Linked DNA regions of Homo sapiens: region 1 is linked to region 2. Evidence: fine-mapped expression QTL. A gene starts in region 2. The other region holds a variant in brackets. All regions are shown on one strand. Distances are between the middles of the regions.

Region 1 (8,633 bases), 76 kb after region 2:
CTTCAACTTGGCCAAGTCAACAGCTTTGACCAAGCAAACATTTGACAAATGATTATTTTAAGGGTAGGTCCTCTCTTATCCTTTGGAATCATATCATCATTTGTTTATTCATTCAGTGAATTTTCATTATATTGATTGATTGATTGTAATCTATGATGTGCCAGACGCTTTGCTGGGAATTTTGACATCTATGGAAATAATGATGAGGCTTTATGGAAAAGCCATTGAACTTCATCATTAATTTATTATCATGTTTTAAAAGTTGTAACGGTTTTATAAAGGTAGTACTAGGTAAGATGAACAAAGGTGTTCTAACTGATGCTAGGTTATTTTTTGTAGAACTATGATCAATCATAAATCACACTACAGAAACTTTGTAGTTGCTTTAAATATTGTGAGCATTTACCTAAAATAGAGATTTTCCTGTCTCCTACCTTAGCTCAAGTGTTTACTGATCTTTTTCCCTAGAAATATGTTTCTGTGTTTGCCTGTACAAATGGAATGATTCAGCATTCTCATCTCTGTGACAAATTCACACTTTGATTTGTGTGGGTTTCCCATAGGGAGGATTATTGATCAACCATCATGCAGACCAGTCTCTGAATAGTTTTTGTCAATGGCAGTCTGCCCTCATTGGAAAGAATGGCAAGAGACATGATCATGCCATCTTACTAACAGGATTTGATATTTGTTCTTGGAAGAATGAACCATGTGACACTCTAGGTATGGTATGAACAGATCCTTCACACACACCTGTTAGCTGAAAACACAGTATGGAAACTTTCTATGGATGATGGATAGCCCTTATGTTCCTTAATAAACAGACATAATATTTAAATTATGGAGTAACCTAATGTACCCTGTGGTGACTATTGTTCTTTTTAACTGAACTTAGAATGTGGGGAGCCCACTTAGTTTATTCATTTTGTATTTTTTTTAATTTGAGATGGAGTTTCACTCTTGTTGCCCAGGCTGGAGTGTAATGGCACAATCTCGGTTCACTACAACCTCCGCCTCCTGGGTTCAAGCAATTCTTCTGCCTCAGCCTCCCAAGTAGCTGGGATTACAGGCACCTGCCACCATGCCTGGCTAATTTTTGTATTTTTAGTAGAGACGGGTTTCCACCATGTTGGCCAGGCTGGTCTCGAACTCCTGACCTCAGGTGTTCCGCCCGCCTTGGTCTCCCAAAGTCCTGGGACTACAGGCATGAGCCACCTCACCTGGCTTGTATTTTTCTTTATTGATCCTACTGATGATCATTGAGGTGTGAGATACATTATTTAACTAGAAACTTGTAGGTTATTCTGTAAGCATCATGACCACAGAATCAGGTAGCTGAAGAGGATTTTACTGGGCTCCATGGTACCTAACTGTGCCACTAGGTAACAGTGCCTTTTTTAGAAGTTACTTGACTTTGAAGTACTCATTTCTTCCATATTTGTACAAGACAGTGATAGCAAGAATTGCATCTTTTATATCTATACTATATTCTAGTATATTCCATTGCACATAATAGGAATTCAACATTTTTTAAAAGTTGATGGATGGCTGTCTAAATCAGGAGTCAGCAAACTTTCTCTGTGAAGGGCCAGACAGTCAATATGTTAAGCTATGCAGGCCACAGGTCTCTGTGGCAGCTAGTCATTTCAGCTGTATTGTTCAAAAGCAGCCACAAGTAATATGTAAATAAATGAATGCAGATGTGTTTTAATAAAACTTTATGAATTTTTTTTATTTTTTTGAGATGGTGTCTTGTTCTTGTCACTCAGGCTGGAGTGCAGTGGCGTGATTTCGGCTCACTGCAACCTCTGCCTCCCATGTTCAAGTGATTCTCCTGCCTCAGCCTCCAGAGTAGCTGGGTTTACAGGCACCCACCACCACACCTGGCTAATTTTTGTATTTTTAGTAGAGACGGGTTTCACCATGTTGGCCAGGCTGGTCTCGAACTCCTGACCTCAAATGATCCACCCACCTCAGCCTCCCAGAGTGCTGGGATTACGGGCATGAGCCACTGTGCCAGGGCAGAAATTTTATTTTTTATGTTTCTCAAATTCTCTGCAGTTTCTCTGTTATGTCCTATAAATAAGTTTATTTTAACAATTAACCATTAATCACAGTCTTCAAAAACACAATGATTTTGGGAATTGTTCCATAGAAAGGGTTTTTGTAATGAAAGATGGTATATATCCATTCATATTCTGAATTTGGAATGTGCAAAGTGACATATGATAATCCAGTGCATTGTTTTCAAGAGAGATTCTGAGAAGCAGACAGTGTTATCTGTTATCCAGAGACCAAAATGTACTAAAAGGCTTGGAAAAAACAAAACACCAGAAATTCTATCAACTGTGGAAAAGGTCACTTACTTTAAGCAGTGTGTCCTAATGCAAAGGGCATGGGCTTTGACTTCCCATATGTCTGTGGTTGATTCCTGAGTGTAGAATTTATGACTCTGAGATCTTGAACAAGTTAATTCACCTCTCTGAGCTTTGGTTTCCTAAGCTATAAATACATACACACACAGATATATAATAGACATATAGCACAGTGTGTGAATTTGCAACCATTTATTTAGTGACGATGACGATGGTAGTAATGATAATGATCCCACCCCTTATTTGTGCCTTTGTATTAGATTTCCCAGCTGATCTCACTTCCGTCTTGACAATGAAGTGGGTACAATCCATTCACAAGCATGCATTTAATATTAGATGGGTACATAGATTTGTTCTACTGATTATTAGGACCCAAAACTGGAAAGAAAGATGTTCGCACACACTGTATTGTATTTGAAGATAGACTTAAGGGCTGGCCGGGATGCTTTTATAATGGCTCTTAGAGGGAAGTAACTTTGGGAACAGAAGCACTTACCACATTATAAAGAACCAGAGAAAAATGAATTTAATCTGCACATGTTGCTTAGACATTTTCATGTTTTCTGCTCTAGTAAAAGACCAGGATATGTGTTTTTCCTTGGAAAATACACCCTGAGCTGTGACGTTAATGCCACTGTTCAGTGAGCATTTTGCATTGGTTTTGCTATCATTCTATCCGTTGCTCTGACCTGAATGATAAACTCAGACAAGGCATATAAATATTCTGTGACTTACTAAACTAAATGTAAAATGGGAATTACAGTACTCATACTGACCTTACAGGGCTCTTACAAGGATCAATTGATAACAATATGTAACAAAAGCAAGAAAATAGGAAATGTTGCATTTATACATTATCATTACACAGGACAAAGAACTATAGATCTTTTTTTTTTTTTTTTTCCAAAAACACTGAATGCATTGATCTATTAAACTAAAACTGTGTAGAACATTTTGAGGACATAAATCATCATCATGTATCTGTGTGTGCAACCTTTGGATTCACATTTGAAACTGCTCTTTCAATAGGGTTTGCCCCCATCAGTGGAATGTGCTCTAAGTACCGAAGTTGTACCATCAATGAGGACACAGGACTTGGCCTTGCCTTCACCATCGCTCATGAGTCAGGGCACAAGTAAGTGCCTCTTTGAACCACTACTTTATGTGAAAACTAGTTGGGTGATTCATTGGTGTTCCTCTAACCGTTGTTGTTGACTTAGGCAGAACAAAGAGGATCAGTCTTGTGTAAAGCTTAGAATAGTTTCTGACTATACAAA[G/C]GGCTCACTAAAGGCTAGCTGTTGTTGATTTCATTCTCTTTAAACAGCAGCACTTAATAGCCACACAGTACTCCTTCGTGTGCACAGATGGGGTCTCTGGGCTGCTAGGCATTTGTTTATTTTTGTTCATGTTTTGCAGCAATGAAGACACTTCTAGCTGATTCTTTATGCACAGGAAGTAATCATGGAGAAAAATTAATTCCCAAAGTATAATGGCATGCTGCTTTTTAAAAAAACTTTTGCTGCATGTACTGAATATTCTTTTAGTTGGCAACATTGCATGTACTTAATATTCTTTTGATTGGTGTCACTAAATCTTCCTTTTATGATGGAGACAACGCTATAGAGAATTTTCAAACATTAGAGCAATAGCAGCTGCATTGGAACAAGTATAATACTTTACAAAATAATTATTTCAATGTGTAGTACTCTTCAGATATACCAGTTTAGGATGTTTGTGTGTGTGTACTTGTGTGTATATTTTATTCAACATACAGGAAATAACTCATATATTTTCAAAGCATCTAGTTAATTTTTGACTTAAAAGCAAACATCATTCAGTAACCATAGTTGGTATTTTTATATGTTGGTGCTGCTATCTTTTTTCTTTTTTTGAGACAGAGTCTCCGTCTGTCGCCCCGGCTGGAGTGCAGTGGCACGATCTCGGCTCGCTGCAACCTCCGCCTCCCGGGTTCAAGTGATTCTCCTGCCTCTGCCTCCTGAGTAGCTGGGATTACCAGTGCCCACTACCATGCCTGGCTAATTTTTATAGTTTTAGTACAGATGAGGTTTCACCATGTTGGTCATGCTGACTACAGGTGATCTGCCGACCTCGGTTTCCCAAAGTGCTGAGATTACAGGTGTGAGCCACCACGCCCGGACAGTGCCAGTATCTTCTATGAGCTACATTTATTATCTTTAGGAAATTTAAACCTTGATCATTGTTGTTATTGTTATCCAACAAATTTCCAACATTATTATACACACACACACACATTTAGACACACATGCACACTTTCCTAGATATGAATAAGCCAATTTTTAAAATTGTAAATGGAGAAGCGAAAATGCTCACTAAGAACAATGCTTCTCATACAAAGCAGGAAACAAAATATGTGTGCATATCAAATGTATGTCTAAGTTTGTTTTACCAGCATGAAGTCCAACCGAACAGGTGTCACTTTTCAAAATACTGGTCATTGAAAAATTTCATTATCTTTGCATATGTGTTAAAATTATCCAAAATCAAAATCCAACATTTTAGATAAGGAAAAGCAGAACATATTCTTCAGGTAGGATTCAGGAGAGAAGTCAGAGGTTGGGGGAAGGACAGATGGTAAAATAAAATACATACCTAAGTTCTAAATAACATGGACTTAAGAAGTTCTGAAACAGACAATTCCTGAGATATTTATATGGCATTTGGCATGTGCTAAAGAAAATATGTTATCATCTTCTAAAATGCTATTAAATTAAATTTAAGATTGTTAAGTTCAAAATTAAATTCCGACTTGATTTTCTTACGCACATAAAATTCCACTGAAGTTCTAAGTAAGTTCTTTTCCTCTAGCGTAATGGCTTCAATCTCTCCTACCCCATCTCTGTTTCTGGGATTCTTGCTGTTTCTTCTCGTGCTTTATTTATAGGTTTCTTTCTGTTTTTTACTTTCACAAATATATTTAGAAAGGGTGTCTCCCAAAGAAATCCCCTTAACGTCTTGGTTAGGTGAGAAGAAGAATTAAATTGGGAAAAGCTGAGGATAAGAAAATGCTTTCACTGAGTATACATTGACGTTAGTCAATACCTATTTTTGAGTGGTCACCTCTGAATACCTAAGGAAGTCACTGATAGGATAGCATACAGTTGCCCTGCTACTATTTTCCTGACAAAGTGGAAGGAATGCTGGAAAAATGGCCATATTATAGACATGGGTCACAAAAAAAGTCATATCTTTTATCGTAACATATTTATTTGGTATAGACTACTTTCAAAGGCGAACTCTATAAATGAAATTATATCAGGATAACATTTATTTACATAGGAGTCATATCTGCCTTATAAATATATGGTCTAAGACACAAGTTTTATTCTTTTAAATAATGAGATTAAGAACAATTTAAATTAATGATGAAATTCATATTTATATCCTTCCGTCCTCTGCATCCCTAAAAAAAAAAAAAAAAAAAAAAATTTCAGAAAAGACTTTTCTCTGTGCTGAATTTTTTAGAGAAGATCAAAGACTCTTATTTCCCCATCTTCTACCACTTTAACATCGCCTGAAGTAAGCTTTGTCTTTATGGTATGTATCCTATGTGGGTATGCACATTAATGTCACATTTATTCTTCCTGTCAGGAAATTTGAGAATTCTTCAGGTATAATGTGCATGATTTCTAGACAGTAGACCACCTAAAGTTTTTCTTCTATAATTACTAGACCCTTCTGTGATGAAACAAATTAAAGTTTTCTCATATAATACATCTGAAAGATAACAGTAATGGTCAAGATTTAATAGCCTTCAATAAAGGGGTTCAAGCATGTTAAAAAAATGTTTATTATAAGAGAGTTTAATTACAATTAGAGTTTGTGATTTCAGCTAATAAATTGATCATAGTTGGAGAGAAGTTTTTATACCATGCTAGCCTTATATATGAACAGTTCATAAACAACTTATAATCATCATCTCTCTGTACTTACTTCCTACTGACTCTGAACTTCTTTACCATAGTTCCGTGGTTGGTGACAAGATAAGAATTCTACTGTTTGAAACTAAATAATTTGGCTGTTCCATCACTTTGGCTTAGCTTATACCTAAATTTTAACTTGAGCAAAATTTTCCAGCCCATAAAACATGTAGCAGCTAGACCATTCTTTGATTCTGTGGTCAGGAAATAATATAACAAAGCCCTCAGCATTTTTAAAGTTTTCTGTGTGAATTTTATAACAATCTATAGTAATTTGCCTTTCTCTTTTCCAGTTTTAATAACTCTGTCTCTCACTTGGTTTTGTTGATGATCAATACATCTTTATTCTTCCTCAGATTATCCTTCAAAAAAATGGGTTCACAAAGCAGGATTTTGTTTTCTTCATTCTGTTTCAGCTTTGGTATGATTCACGATGGAGAAGGGAATCCCTGCAGAAAGGCTGAAGGCAATATCATGTCTCCCACACTGACCGGAAACAATGGAGTGTTTTCATGGTCTTCCTGCAGCCGCCAGTATCTCAAGAAATTCCTCAGGTATGACAGGTTAAATCCTGGGGTGCTCCTAGGTTTGGAGTGATGACAGAATTGTGCTCCATAGACCTGCAAACGAATACTCAGTGGAAATACCTTTTGACCTGTCAATAAACAGAAAGACAAATGATGATGATAATGATGATGGTGATGATGACATTGTTGAAAAAAATAGATTGAAGCCTAATGTTGTGCTAAATGTTCTCCACATATTTCCTCCTTCAATCCTCACAGCGATACTATTATCCTCAATCTAGAGTTGAGAAATCAAGTCTTAGGTTAATTGTGTTGCATAAGGTACTATCGCTGGTAAGTTGCAGACAGAAGACTCACACTTAGATCTGTTCTGACTCTAGGATCTCTACTCAACCATCTCTCCCCTGTGACTTCCAGAGGCTGCTAGGTATATTGTCTTTTTACTGTGACTAATTATTTCAATGTTATCGATCAATGTGTCATAGAGTATTTTAAAAATGCTCAAATGGTATGAGTGTGTGTTTGTGTTTTAATGAATAGAGCATTTTCTTCTTTGACTATTATGTTTGAAATGGCCAGGAGCTAGCTTTATGTCCAAATGATAGCCAAAGAAGATGGTAGCTATATAAAATGCTTTTAATAACACAGAAACCTTAAGTTGCATTAGTAAAAGTAGGAGTTTGGAAAGTTGTACTATTTAATTCATATTAAACAATTAACCCAAAGTTGAAATACACACACACACACACACACACACACACACAATCCTACCTTTATAATCTATATTGACCCACAAGGACACTTAGATGCTAATCCCATATCTCTTTGAACAGATGTTAGTGAAATTTCTTTGGGAATTGACACTTTTGATACTTTATTTTTAACCTGTACCACTGTGTATTATTTGCAAATGTTTAAAGAATTAGTAAGATCTATACACAAAGCATATTAAACGTGAAGATATCTAACCACATATGCCCAAAGGGTGGTAAAAAATCAACAGACTTTTTGTTAGTAAGCTTTGCCATGAAGATTTTCCTATTAGTTTTAAATTCATGGTTTGGTGACTAAAATTATTTTTTCCAACTCATGTAAGAATGCAATTAATAAGTATTAAAATCAAGATCAACTTAACATAGGCTGAATTTCCGTTAGTATGTAGTTAAATGCTTTTGTAGTTAAATGTTATAATAATGATAACAGCAGCAGCTAACTTTGCTTATTATGCTTTATGAAGCATGTTATATTTTCTCATTTGAACTGTGTAACAACCTTTATGAGAGTCATTGTCACTCATGAGCTGTGTAAGAGCTACATAACTTGGTCTTGGTTGCATGGTTGATTAGGACCCCCATCTGTCTCACTACAAAATTACACTTAACCACCATGATAATTAACTTCTCGGTGGTACCACATTTTAATTATTTAAGTAAGTGGAGATAAGGTGCTAAGAATATCCATGCCATCAGGACTGATTTTTGCTCTCAACAAGTCACAGTCAAACATATCTGAAGGAAATTTTTCTGCCTCATCCCCCAGTTCATTATTCCTCTTGATTCTTTAGGAATGTTATTTATTTTTGTCTGTAAGGCTTATTGTGAGTTAAAGTACATCTTTGACCTCTGCTCCATTATCTGTTTAAAAAAAGAAAATACTTGATTTAAAACTCCATGAAGACAGGTACTGTGTCTGTCTGGTTTATTTTGTACCTTTAGTGCTTTGTCTAAGGTTTGCCACAGAGTAGGGACTCAGTACAAATTGTCAAATATTGT
Region 2 (8,633 bases):
TGACTATGGACATCTATCTCTTTGGACATCAAAATGTTTTCTACAGGAAAGTACTGGACACCCGTTCAGTAAGACCCAGCCCACTGTTTGATGCAGCTTTGAGCAGCTAGAGGAGGAAGAGTTTCCCTCTACTCGCTGACGGAAAAGGAGAGGAGCAAATAAGGAGTTAGTCAGTCATAGCACAGAAAGTCAACTGCACCGGAAGAGGCAGTAAGTGTTTCTTACTTTCCATGGAAGGGATGTTTGCATCTTCATGAATCCAGGGACAAAGGAAAGTGAGTAAGCAACGTGGTTTGCCATTTATTTTTTGATCTGTCTAGGAGGAGGCAAGTATCTTAATGTTATTTGGCAAAAAAAATAAAAATAAAAATAAAAATAAAAAAATAAAAAAGCTTATGTCAGTAGAAAAAGAAAATCAATGCCTAGAACTGTACCATTGATTTTAAAGGAAGAGAAAGGAGGAATATTTTTCGTGGTTAAGAGTGAAACACTGTGATCTCTCTATCTCAAATTTCCCCCCATTCCTCCCTCCCTCCCTCCCTCCCTCTGCTCCTCTTACAAACATTTATGAATGTCTGTTACGTGGCATATTCTGGGCTACGTCTGACAGAATACAACACATCAGCGATGAGCTCTGCCCCCCCATATCCCCATTAGTTTATTGCAAACTTCAGATAGCCATTGTAGTGTCCTAGATTTATCATTTTAAAATCAGGTAAGACTGACATTCCCAAGTAACTTAAAAGCTACTTTGCAGTTTATAACTCCAAGACTGGAGCATGGGCTCATGATTCTCTGTCACCATCTAGAGACAATTTATACATATTGCAGGGCCAGTTCCTGGAAAACTACGTATAAAATCATCCCAGAAGTTATGGCTTTGCAAGTATTTATCAGCCCTAAAAAAGAGACTAGACATCTACAAATGAATGGAACTGCAAGTTTTTATCTTCCAGGTCTAGAACTATGCAAGAAATGAGTCTCAGTTTCTGTGCCCAATCATGGAGGACTTGAATCTGTGGAGAGCAAAGATTGACTGGGGTATGGAAGAAGAGCTGTAAAATCAGTTAAGGATAAACTACTTACATTAGGTTCAAGAGGAGCCCTCTAGACTCTCAAAAAAAAATGGGCACTCAACAAAAAAATGTCACAGAATAGGACTGGGAATCTGTACTATTTATCCAGGTTCTCACCTAGGGGAATTTTACCCACCAGGAAACATTTGGAAATCTCACAACATTTTGTTGCATTTTGGGGGCTGCTACTGGCATTTAGTGAAGTAGAGGCCAGAAATGCTGCTAAACATCCTATGTTTATAATGTACAGGATGATAGCCCCTACCACAAATGATTATCCAGCCCAAATCTCAGTACTGCTGAGATTGAGAAATTCCACAATTGAGCATAGAGCATAGTTAAGGGTTGTTCTCCGAGACTTCAGCCCTGACCATGGCAAGTAACCTATATTGTTAGCCCTAAAAGAGGAGGATCAGAAAAATATGGACAATTTCATGCAAATGTATCTTAATGGAGAGACACAAATCAGGGCCATGGTTATTTTTAGCTGAGTGTGGACAAGCCCTTCACCCTCCAGGTTCCGTCAGTGTTCACCTGATGATGTCGCTGACAGTGCTGTCAATCCCAGTCTCCTGTTTTATTCAGTCCGTTGCTTGGTGATGTGACCTCCAGCAGTGTTTTACTGCATGTCTTTGATGTCCAGTTTCCTCTTGTGTCCAGTTCTTCATGGAATCATATGAAGCACTTAAGTCACTTGTGTCTGAATCACCCACAAGTGCTTACTACAAATGCATGCTTGGGCCCTACACCAAATCCATGGAATCAGAATCACAGTGCTTCATGGCCTGGAAATCTGCATTTTTAAGCTAGCATTACAGGTGATTTTGACGTATATTCAAGTTTGACACAGGATGTATGAAATAACAGAAATACACCATCACTTCTTAAAGTCCACTTATAATGTGCTTTGAAAAATATATTCACTTACCCCTCAGGCTATCCTTTTGATGTAGCATGTTGATTCCTATTTTACAGATTATAAAACAGAGGCCACAGAGCTTAACCAGATTAAGTAGGGAAACCCAAATGATTTGTTTAGCCCTGATGTTCTGTGAGGCTTAGCTTCATGTTCCTTAGGCAGACACATCACCTTCTCTGCCGCTACAGCCTGGGTTTACCTCTTCCCAGCTGCATTCCATAAAACCGACTATGTGTATTGAGCTATCACTTAATCGAGGCTTGACATAGACCTCATGTTAACTACTTCAGTACCCACAGGACTGAGCAGAGTAATACATCTACTTCCACTACCACTACCCTGGTCCAAGCAAGACACTGTCATTGTACCCCTTCATGCCAGCAACAGCTGCGTGGTTTGTTTCTCTCTGACCCTGCCTCAGCTCGTCCAATCCCTACACTCGCTCAAAAAATGGTTCACATTTTTTTATTATTGGATATGATGTTGCCTCCTACACATACACAAACCCACATTCATTTAAATCTAATGGTTTCCAACATGCTTCGCCCCAGCTTACAAGGTCCAGCTGACCCAGCAACTGCTGTGTTTGCTTCTTCCTCTGGCCTGTAACACTTTTCACGTGGCAATCACTTAACTACCTTGAGACCTTCACTTATGCTGTGCCCCCTGTCCTAACATGCAAGATCCTACTCCCCTCTTCCCTTATAAAACCGATCCACTCTCTCTGGCCTTATTTTAAGTGTCAGCTCCTAACAGATGCCTTGCACGTGTATGTATGCGTGTGTGTGTGTATATATATGTGTGTGTGTATATATACACCCACACACACACACACACACACACACACACACACACATCTTATCCCATCTAAATTAGATTCTGCTGCCATCTAATTTAGGAGACTATTCTTTTCCTTTTTAGTATTTGTGTTCATTTTGCTTCTATTACCGTTGTCGAGCTATCCAATCAGATTCGTTTCCACTGGCCCGTGAGACTGTATTTTGTTCACCTCTGCAAACAGGGATCAAAGGATCAAATAAATGTCTTGAGTAAACGAACAGGCACACAGCAAACTGGATGCACATTCCTAGTGATGGCGTGCGCTGTTTGTTATAACTGATTTCTGTGGGTTTGGGTATCTGGGGCCAAGATTCAATCTCGAAGAGTGGGAAGCACGGTCACGTCAAGAAGAGAGAGAGAGATCCGGGAGAAGAGGGAGGCCCCCGCGTGCCATGAGTTTTTACATGCTGCAGACAGTGACAGCTCATTGTTCTGGTCCTCCCGGCTGCCTCAGATTTGCTGACTCTGGGAAGCTAGGTCAGCTTGTGCGCATCTGAGCCTCCTTTTCCTCATCTTTATCAAGGAATTAATAATTCCCACCTGAAAAAGGTAGGGCCTGAGGCAAATGCGATACAGCAGGGGATAGCTCCCAGCACTTAGGAGGTGTTGAGGACGCTATCTTGACTCTTTGCCAGAAGAGTTGAAAATGAGAAGTCTGCACAGGCAGCGAAAAAGTCGCGCCACTCACCTGAGCCTTTCGTCTTCCGAACTCATCTCCCAGTGCGCTTAAATTACGTTTTCCAAGCCTGACCCTGGGCGCTCCCCTCCTTCTCATGGCGGTCGGTCCCTCCCTCCCTATCACTCCCACCCAGCCTCCCCGCCCCCTTCGCCCCCTCCCTCAGAGCTGGAGCCGGGAATCCCACGCCCTTGCACCAGCCCGGGGGCTCGGACGAGCCCGGGAGCCGCTGGTCGCCAATCACCGCGCGGTGGAGAGGCGGGCGCTCGGCTCCGGCGCGCTGGGGGAGCCAGCTGGCGCTGTCTTCCCCATCGCCTCAGACGCTCACACCGACACAGACAGACGCACAGACGGGCGGGCAGACACCGACAGTCTCCCAACCGTTTGCGCTCCAGTCCCGGCCCAGGGAGCCCCCCGTACCCTCTGGGGTGCCGCAAACTGCAGCTCGGCAGGCCCGCGCCGGGAGAAGGGAGGGCGCGCAGGCGGCCGGAGGAGGGGAGGTCCCAGCGCGCCCCCGCTGCGATGTGAACGGCGGCGGCTCTCACCTGGAGCCGCACCTGGGGCGCCGAGCTCCGGGGCCGCGGAAAGAATGCGCGCCGCCCGTGCGCTCCGCCTGCCGCGTCTGGCCACCCGCAGCCGCCGCGTCCGCACCTGACCATGGAGTGCGCCCTCCTGCTCGCGTGTGCCTTCCCGGCTGCGGGTTCGGGCCCGCCGAGGGGCCTGGCGGGACTGGGGCGCGTGGCCAAGGCAGGTGCCGCCGAGCGGAGCTCCGAGAGCGGGTGGCAGGGGGCGCCCGACGCCAGCCCCGCCGCGCCCCTCACGCGCGATGTCACCTTTTCTCTTGCAGGCGCTCCAGCTGTGCTGCCTCTGCTGTGCGTCGGTCGCCGCGGCCTTAGCCAGTGACAGCAGCAGCGGCGCCAGCGGATTAAATGATGGTTCGTATTTGCCCCCCATCCCCAAGAAGGGCCTTTCGCAGCACTTTGACCCTTCCTTCCCCCAAAGAGAGAAAAGATGGAAAAGCGCACCCCCTAACCTGGCAGGTGTGCGCTGTCTTGGAAATGGTTCCTGTTTGGAGAGGGGGGAAGGTTGGCAAGGACTGAACTTATCAAAAGAATCAACGCCCCGAGCTGCAAGTCACATAAAAGCAAATACTCTCCCTCCTTCACAGGTGGCTTGTTAAGAAGAACAAGAAAAAAAAAAAAATCCTAACTGCAGTGAGAAATTCGAAGGGAAGTGGACATTAACTAAGGAATTACTTATTTCCTCCCTCTCCTAACTCTTGTTGGGGGAAGCTAATTCTTAGTGGGAGATGAAAGAATGTGAGCCTCTTTCCTCTCTCCATCTTTCCTCATTTTTCTCTCGACTTCTGTTCCTTTTCTATCTCTTCTTTTTTTTTCATTTCTGCTTCCCTTGTTTTACGGATGTCTAAGGCTGCTTTTAGAGAGAGGAAAGCAGGTGACTTCAGGTCTCTGAGTCCTTTATCTATCTTTTCTGACGTTCGCCAGCCACAAACTTCCAGAAAATCCCTCACTTCTGACATTTATTAACTTCCCAGTGGAGCCCAGAGGGAAATCCTTGTTTTGATTGTTTCCCATCAGCTACAGGAGAACAGCTGATTCCTGACGCAAGGTGTCTAGGAAAACCTTACAGCTCAACCTGGATTCTTTAGAATTCTGTAATTTTTAGTTTTGCAAGGTTATCTCCTTTTCTTGTCAGGGGAATGGGGAGTGGGGCAGGATGGAGTCATGGAGAAGGGATTCACCTTTTGTCCAAACAGAGAGGCTGCAGTTTCTAAAACCACCCCTCATTCTTATATCAGGATCAGATGGCTGGAGGCCACGTCCGACCCAGCCACAACCTTGTAAGGACCTCACCCTTACTCACCTCCTGAAGTGGTCAATCAGAGATCACTCTTTACAGGGGACACTGACTGCCCTTCTTCCATCAAGAACCGAATGTAACCGACAGCCTGTTATTCTCCCCTTGGAAACAAGCTGGTAGCAGGTGTCTGGGGCCGTTTGATGGCTGGTTCCATAGAAGGCTGGCTGGATAACGTTCCTACAGAGCCTTCCAAGTAAGAGCAGGCAGAGTTTCAGATGATTTGGGACAAGAAGGTGAGACACAGACTTCCTGCATATGTCAGGAATCTTTTTCATAGTTAAGTTTTAGTTTGACAGAAGGAGAAGGTAGACTTTCTCTAAGAAATTGCACATAATCAAGAGCCACATCCCTTTAAAGCAATGTATCAGATTTTTAAGAGAAGAAAAATATTGTATGTCTGGCTCAGATTTTCAAGGTTAAGAGAGGGGAAAAACTTTTCCCCCCATTATTGTAAAATATGTATGTCAATTATACAGCATTTTTAGTTAAAGGAGGGAGTCAAGAAGAAAAATGGGAGTGGGAGGACATAAAGAATATAAAAATGAAAGCTGCCCAAGGAATAAGTCACAGATGGTTCATAAACAGAAGAAAATTATTGTCTATTGTGGAGAATTCTTTTTTAATGTGAGCCTAATTAGGCCATCACTCATTGATCTTTGCTAGCTACAGGGGCTCCACTATTCCTTAGTTTTTTTTTTTTTATTGGAGGAGGGGGAAGGTTGTTGACTGTTTAGGGAAAAGAGAAATTTCTCTTCCTTTTCCTCCTCCAGTAACTGGGGACCCAAGTGACTCAAACATACCTCGTCATTATTCAACAGCTTTCTAAACACTTTCCAAAGTAGTTTCCCATTCTGTGCCTTGAAAGTGGAAATGCAGGCTGTTTTTTAATGCACAGAGGGCATATTCCAAATCATTTTGTGGGATGATGCTTTTCAGCTTCAATGTTTGGTGAAAGAAAACAGTGTGCTGGCTTTGCTTTTCAAATAGCAAATTGTATTTTAGCTCCTCCTCTTTGGAACATTCAGCAATTAGTACTGCTCTAGGGAGCAGTGGTGAAGGTATTTTTAAACATGCCTTTCCAGGTGTCCCCTGATCTGACACTCCCCCACCAACATGCCTGAGCAATTTTATACATCAGACTATATAGGAGGGTTCTGACAATTTTGAGGCATTTTTGTGCATGCACTGTATTTTATGCTTACAATTAAATGGGATCATCCCTGTGAAAGCTCACAGTAAAATGCTAAGGGTGATACAAGTGCTGGAGTTTTCTTATCACACATAAATAATATTGGAAAAATGAAAATGCTGTTGCTTGTTAATGATCTGAAATATCATCTGAGGCTACCCCACACTGTGAGTTAGGACTTGAAATGTAAACTCTGCCTCTGCCAAAATGTTCCCGATTCAGTTTAAGCACAGAGAAATTAACCTCCTTGAAGAAATTTCCCGATTTTGTAGTTTTATGTTTATTAACTTTATCTTCAAAAAAATTAAATTTTATATATATGAATGGTTCTGTGGCCAATATTATAAAAGGCCCAGACCATTAAACATCAAAAGAATGTTCTAAATCTCTCTCCAGACAATGAGAGGTGTTACATTTTTCCACAGACATCCATGAAATTCATCAAAATTGTGCTTGGCTTTCGGGCACCTGTAGAAATGACTGTGGCCGAGTTAGTTGTAGAGACAGGTCTTCTGCTGCCTGTGCTGCTCTGAATTATATTTGATCTAGGTGCAAGGCAATAGGAACAAAGATATCTTTGAGCTTTGTGTTGCTCTTTGCCAGCTTGCTGGAAAGAGACCATTTGGAATTGTGGGCTCTGGGTGCTGACAGCTGAACTTTTCCCATTGCAGATTACGTCTTTGTCACGCCAGTAGAAGTAGACTCAGCCGGGTCATATATTTCACACGACATTTTGCACAACGGCAGGAAAAAGCGATCGGCGCAGAATGCCAGAAGCTCCCTGCACTACCGATTTTCAGCATTTGGACAGGAACTGCACTTAGAACTTAAGCCCTCGGCGATTTTGAGCAGTCACTTTATTGTCCAGGTACTTGGAAAAGATGGTGCTTCAGAGACTCAGAAACCCGAGGTGCAGCAATGCTTCTATCAGGGATTTATCAGAAATGACAGCTCCTCCTCTGTCGCTGTGTCTACGTGTGCTGGCTTGGTAAGTACACCCCAGTCTGAGTTGAGCTCCCTCTTTCGTGTTTTGTGTAACTTGAATGAACAGATGTCTGCAATATAAATGCTCTTCCAGCCAACTCCACACATTCACACTGTCAGCCTTGATACTTCTAATATTCTCAATTGAATTAATCTAATGTGCTCCCAGAAAAAGAAAATATAATAGAACTTTAATTACCATTTAGAACAATCTTTTGATGTTTAATGGTCTGGGACTTTTCATTCTCCATGTTTGAGATGATCCCCAAGGAAATTAACTTGATGGATGCCATTCGCTTTGTAATGTCCCGGGAGACCAGGCATTCTATAAATCTAACAAGCTTCATGCGTCTACATGGCTTTGAAATGGGAAAACTGTATTTCAATGCGAAATTGCATTCAGCAGCACTGGTAAGATCAACCTTCACTTTGCTGAAGGGAGGCCTTTTGTCTTCTTTGAACTAATCTGTTGCTGGTGTCCTGCTCACATAAGACATCCTTTTAGAATGTGGGGTGCTGTGTTCCTGGGCTGGCAGGATTAAATGTGGCATTCAGGGAAGCAGAACCTTTTAAAAGCATTTGGGACCAGTGTTATTTCCTCCCTATGTAATCCTCATCTGCTGAGCACCAGGCCAAGAATATCAGTGTAAATGATACTCTTCTCAGGATTCAATCAAATATACGAGGCGGTAAATGTTGTTCTGGGTTGATTTCATTCTGTGTTGTGATTGAGAAGTGTCTTGAATTGACAGAAGAGTTTGTGTGTGTTGAGACACATGGTGATTGTGCTCTGGCATGGCCAGAAGAAGGAAAATGTGAGAAAGCCCAAGTGAGGATGTAGTGAGTAATGTACATGGTACATCATGGCACAAAGCAAGAGGGGTGGCTTGGGTACGGGTGAATGCGGACTCCCATGTTCTTTGTTAGTTGAAACTTTCAGTTACTTTTTAATTTTTTCCCCCTATTATGGCCTGAAATTTAGCTAAAACCTTTCATTACAACCACAATCACGGTATTCTTTCTTTGGTCTATTTAAAATGATGAACATGGCTCACCATTGACCTATAT

Which allele goes with the higher level. Positions count from the first base shown, and alleles are read on the strand shown. Sizes are in standard deviations (SD) of each study's normalised expression.
As copies of C replace G in region 1, the expression in prefrontal cortex of the gene that starts at base 3,830 in region 2 goes down (large effect, 1.1 SD a copy in CommonMind).

Evidence for each region. PIP is the estimated chance that this variant, and not a neighbour inherited with it, causes the effect. A credible set is the group of variants that fine-mapping cannot tell apart.
Region 1: its variant is the best candidate, but not a certain one, in a credible set for the expression of ADAMTS18 in prefrontal cortex (CommonMind, PIP 0.61).

The regions. Positions count from the first base shown.
Region 1 is chr16:77,354,195-77,362,827 of GRCh38, reverse strand. It overlaps ADAMTS18 (ADAM metallopeptidase with thrombospondin type 1 motif 18), which reads left to right. Exons shown (of 23, transcript NM_199355.4): 7 at 564-723; 8 at 3,405-3,510; 9 at 6,751-6,888. Among named protein-coding and RNA genes, the nearest start is that of ADAMTS18, 77 kb to the left of the region's middle. The variant G/C (reference allele first, on the strand shown) is at 3,653.
Region 2 is chr16:77,430,231-77,438,863 of GRCh38, reverse strand. ADAMTS18 (ADAM metallopeptidase with thrombospondin type 1 motif 18) reads left to right here and starts at 3,830. Exons shown (of 23, transcript NM_199355.4): 1 at 3,830-4,258; 2 at 4,359-4,446; 3 at 7,253-7,569. The coding sequence starts at 4,169. RefSeq lists an enhancer at 3,634-4,134.